2 separate regions of the Homo sapiens genome follow, and region 2 is linked to region 1. Evidence: fine-mapped expression QTL. Tissue or cell type: aorta. Region 1 holds a variant in brackets; the other region holds the start of a gene. All regions are shown on one strand. Distances are between the middles of the regions.

The links. PIP is the estimated chance that this variant, and not a neighbour inherited with it, causes the effect.
Region 2: TRPM3 starts here. The variant in region 1 is fine-mapped to the expression of TRPM3 in aorta (GTEx, PIP 0.93).

The regions. Positions count from the first base shown.
Region 1 is chr9:70,923,022-70,925,786 of GRCh38, reverse strand. All of the region lies in intron 1 of TRPM3 (transient receptor potential cation channel subfamily M member 3), which reads left to right. Among named protein-coding and RNA genes, the nearest start is that of MIR204, 110 kb to the right of the region's middle. The variant G/A (reference allele first, on the strand shown) is at 1,338.
Region 2 is chr9:71,119,990-71,122,754 of GRCh38, reverse strand. TRPM3 (transient receptor potential cation channel subfamily M member 3) reads left to right here and starts at 1,134. Exons shown (of 26, transcript NM_001366145.2): 1 at 1,134-1,577. The coding sequence starts at 1,401. RefSeq lists an enhancer at 1,489-2,326.

The DNA of each region.
Region 1 (2,765 bases):
GAAATTTATCTCTCCCGCGCTGGCTGAAAGGAGATATTGTGTTTCCTCTTCTATATTAATATCAAATTATTTTGGAAAATGAGTCACTGCTGATACCCCAGCATATATATATAAAGATTGCCTATAGGTGTTATTAGAAACTTAATTGGTGGGAAGTAAGAAAGCTGCATTGGAGCTGTGAATAGACAGGAGGAGATATATATATATATTCCATATTCTGTGAATAGACAGGAGGATATATATATATATTTTTTTCCATATTCTACCAACATTTGTTCCATGATATTTACTGTAGAAGCAACACAGAATTTGTATGATGACTCATAATCTTTTATATCTACCTTGTTTAAGACCCACCTCTGACTCCCACAGCCTCCCTAAAACATTTACTTCTATGTCTCCAGGAAAAAAGTCTAGTGTAATACATCATTGCGGTAGGGTGGTGATTCATTATTTATTTGTTATCAGTACTCTCGAACACACATTGTTTCCATCAATACTGAGCAAAGATTGGTTTTATGTTTGAGCAATTTTAATAATACCAATGTGCAAAGTAGACTTCGTTGAACGCCCTTAAGCAACCTGGCTCAAATCAATCAAAAGTTATCATTTGCTGTGTAGCATTTAAATGTTGGAAAAACAGCACCATCTGCTGGAAAGGGGCAGGTAGGGCTATACATGTTAGCCAAGTACTGGAGAATGTGAAAGCCAAAACTCTTGACTGACTCAAGTGAGTCCGTGCATATCCATGTTCATGCAATTCACGTTATGAAATGGCAATTGTGTACGGTTCAGTGGAAAGAGCGCAGAATGAAAGCTGGCTTCTGGCTTAGGTTCAGCGATCATCATCTTCTCCTTCTCCTTTTCTTTCTCCTTCATCTTGAAATCTGTGTAACCTTGTAGAAATTACTTCTTGAAAATAAGAGTTCTTAGATGGTTGTTGGGGGTAAGGTGAGTATAGCACCTGAACTTTCTACCTTGTATTAGTCAGCTAGAGAATGGTTATTAAAGTACTTAACATTCACAAATCATATCAGGACTATAAGGCTTACGTATTAGTGTTAACATGTCAAATTTTAGCTTAGCGCAAAAATATGGTAGAAACCGAGCTGGCCTGACGAGTATTCTAATATGCTGCCAGAGAGACTGTTAATCGTGAAAGCAATTTGGCAACAAGACGAAGAGCTTTAAAAACATTCATTTGGTTTGACTCAGTCATTGTACTTCTAGGAATCCATCCAAAGAAAATCATTAGAGAAATGAAAATAGATTTATGGTCAAGAATGTTCATACCAACATTATTTAATGATGTTGAAATACTGGAAATGGAACTGATT[G/A]TCATCAGTAAGGAGTATTAAATAAGTCACATGATAAACTGTTGTACAGCATTAAATTCATGCTTTGAAGAATAATGATATGAAGAAATATTCACAATATAATTGTAAGTAAAAAATAAATAGTATATGGAAGTAGATGACCAGTGTGACTATAATTTTGGGAGGAAAGAGGAATCAAGGAAGGAAATAAATATTGGTATTATATCAGCCTTGTTGCTATTTGGGGCCATATAAGTCTTTGTTGGGTATGTGGGGGCTTTTCTGTGCATTAGATGATGTTTAGCAGCATCTCTGGCCTCTAGCCAAATGTCAGCAGCACCATTTCACCCACAAGGAACAACCAAAAATGTCTGCAGACATTGCCAAATGTCCTAGACGGGAGACAGCAAAATTGCCCTCAGTTGAGAACCAATGTTCTAAAGGAAAACAGCACAAAGATATATATATATAGATAGATAAATAGATAGATAGATTGTGTGTATATATATATGTGTGTGTGTGTATATATATATGTATATATGTGTGTATATATGTATATATGTGTGTGTGTATGTATATATGTGTGTGTGTATATATATGTATATATATATATGTGTGTGTGTGTGTATATATATATATATAGAGAGAGAGAGAGAGAGAGAGAGAGTGTGTGTGTGTGTGTGTGTTATTTGTGTTGCCAGTATTACTCGGCCAAGCTGGATGAATAAGCTAGTTAATAGGAATCAAATGGACAGCTTTCAGAGTAACTCACTGGCTCTCCAGGGTCTTGCCTAAAGCAAGTTCTTAGGAAACACATTTGACAACTGGCAAGAAAAATTCATAGGAAATACAAAGATTTTCTGACACATGACCCTTAGGAATCTAGGCAGTTTTCTCCTTGTATTAATGGCATTACTTTATATCCAATTCTTGGTAAAATAGTTACTTTTTTTCTTCTTTGTAATTTCTCTATTTTTGTATTTTTCTACAATTAACATAAATTCATTTGTTATTAAAAAAATTAAATACATTTTAAGAACCCCCATGGGAGAGGCTACAAAGCAAATTTTGTAATCCTATCTAGTGTTCTGTTGTAATCTTGACGGATTTTATCCTCTCTATATATCCTCCCATCATCCCAAAATAGGACAAAACCTGCAAAATTGCAGTTTTGTGAACAGGTATTAAAAAGTATAAAACGTGAACATGAACATGTATTAAAAAGTGTAAAACGCCATGAAGATGAACACACAGTTATTTTAAGCGACATTTGCTTTCAGGTTTTTTAGGCTTTTTTTGTTTTTATTAACTAGTTCATCTAAATGTTTACAAAAATTAATAAACCAGGTAATTTATGGGTTCCACTTCATTGCCCCTGGATAGGCGCTATCTTTTATAATAGGCCCAATAGTCCACTCCATTTGGAAAAACCAAAGTCGGAAAGATCAA
Region 2 (2,765 bases), 200 kb before region 1:
GACACAAGACCATTGTGAGTGAAATGGTGTTGTAGCGCAGTGTGTCAGGTATTGATTTCATGCTGGGGTGGGCCTGTGTTGTCCCGGTTCTGAATTACAGCAGTGTATCACATCTGCTTGCACCACTCCCAGTTCAGCTCTGACTGCATAATAGTCATGGAGCTGGGATTTACCAATCTCTTCAAGTTAATTAGAAATGGAAAATCAGCATGGTCACAGAGGAAAAAATAAATAAGATGGCGATGCTCCAAGGATGTGGGGATTCTCCCCATAGGAGTTGTCAGGTCAACTGCTCCCACTGAGGTCCGATGCCTGGGGGTACATGGGAGCCGAAGGGGGGTTGTGTCAGGAACTCCCTTCTCATCTCACCGTCCCAACTTACTATGTGAAATTATCCAATTTCTACCTTCAAATTGAAAAACTGTCCTTTAATTCTCTCTCTCACCACAGGAGTCCTAAAGACTATACATTCCAACTCAGCAACTATTTCATACAGCCTCCTTAGAAAATGATGGGGGTGGACACCCCACTTGAGGAAAATCCATTCTTTATAGACAGCATCCCATGTGGCACTTTATGGGTTAAACTTGTGTTGCAGAGAAGCGGTATCAAGTGGCTTTCCAGGAGATAACCCCCATTTAAAAACTGCCATCTCTAAAAGGTGAGCCAAATGCCCATGAGTTTAAACTGCTTTGTATGAAAGGAACAACCCAGTGTGTTTGAGTTTGCTTCTGTCTCAGTGTCTGTCATCTATGCAACCGATTATCAGGATGAAGACTGTCAATCACGGTTAATAAAAACCTCAGAACACGACACAGATCTCTTTTACTATAGATGTATTTGATGATAGCCTCACTTTATTATGTCACATAAATCAAAAGGGAAGCATTTATCTCATCATTCGGAGGCACCCCTTCTCTCCCTGTGTCCTCACCCCTCCCCCCGTACCAGTTCTCAGTCCCTCAAAGATGCTTTGTGCAAGAAAGTGCAAGTTTCCCGTTCTGGCTTCATTTTTGTTCCCTTTTGCGATCCTCCTGGCTCCCCCCCAAACCAAGCTAGCAAAGCAATGGCCCCGGTTCCCCCCCAACGCCTGACCTGCGTTTACTGGGAGGAGAGCGGGAGAGGGAGCGCGCATTCTGGAGCAGGCTGCTTTGACTCCGACCACAGGCTGTTTTGTGCAGGCTGTCCCTCTTCTTCAAAATCGTGCATCCCCTCCCCGAAGCAGCAGGCAGTGTGCCTCCATTCAGCCACATTTGGTATGCATGAGCACGGCTGCAGAGAGAGGGGAGGTGGCTGTTTTAAGAAGGTTCAGGGGCTCAGGCAAGGCTACTTGACTAGTCTTCCAAGTTCCAGGAAGCCTCTGCCCTAATGGAATTTGCAGGTGTGGAGATGACCATGGGATGCCAGAGCCGTGGGGGACCGTTTATTTTCTAGGCATTGCTCAGGTTTTCAGTTTCTTGTTTTCCTGGTGGAATTTGGAAGGGGTCATGAATCAGGCTGATGCTCCTCGACCCCTAAACTGGACCATCCGGAAGCTGTGCCACGCAGCCTTTCTTCCATCTGTCAGACTTCTGAAGGTACTGTAACTTGCAGCTTTGAATGGCGCTAATTGTGCTTTTTAGATTTAAATACCCAACTTGGGGACTTGGGCTGGGACGCACCTTTGGGGGAGCCTAAATGCATGCAGTACTGGCTCTGTGGTCCGTGGCTGGAGAGAGGTTCTCAGTACTCCTGCCCTCCCCCCACGCCCCCCACCCACACCCCGTGGTGTCAGAGACAAGAGGCTGGTGCGAACCACACTCGAGAAGGAGATTTTGGTCTCAGAGAATGGGCTACCTGGTGCTCCCCCACCCCTTTTAACCATTCCTAAAACAGAATTAATTAACTTCTTTGGGAGGGTGGGAATAGTAGTGGGAGTGAAATCTCTTACTCCCTTGTGTTTGGCTCCTGGGCTTTTCTTTCTCTCTCCCTGGGGAAGCCCTTCGACCCACTTTCCCTTTAAATGGAACCAGAGAGAACAAAGGATTCTCCTCATTAGTTTAAAAGCTTTGTGTAGTTAGGTGGCCAGTCAGGTGAAGATGAACAAAGAATGAGCCTCCTCAGACAGTGACTTTTTTTGTGTCCTTGTTTTTAGAAAAGGCATAAAAATGTGAGTCTCCTGAGTGGAATCAGTAGTGGGAAAGTATTGTTAAACATATATTGAATGTCAGCTCTCTCTCTAGCTGTGAGTCACACAAAAGAATGGCACTACACCTGAGCAGGAATTGCCACCGTGTGTCTGCAGCGCTTCTCTTTCCAGAAGCAAATGCATTAAAGATACTGAAAAAGTCCATACAACTCTGTACTAATCCACCTTCATGATCTTTCTTGTAGGGGGGAAAACACAAATTAGATTTAAAGGTGCAGGAAACAAGCATTTTTGCCCAGTAAATAGAAGGTGGTAATACTTAATAGGGAAAAATAAATATCTCTGATGTTCTATATCCATTCGAAGTTAAAAAAGGCAAAGTTCTTAATTCTCTTTTCCTGAGTATGTATGCTCTTTTGATTTAGTGACCACAGAGCATTGAGTCCAGTGGGCTACAATGGAGAATTAATGAATTAGCCCTGAATACGTTACACTTGGAGAATTTTGTTCTGAGGATGTGTTCTGGTTAGGTAAGATTTGATGGGGACAGTTAGTTCCATACAGCTAAGTGGTGCCTCACAACAGAGTATTACCCCTTGCCTGAGTTTTCCTTTTCTTGTTAAACACCAACTGGTAT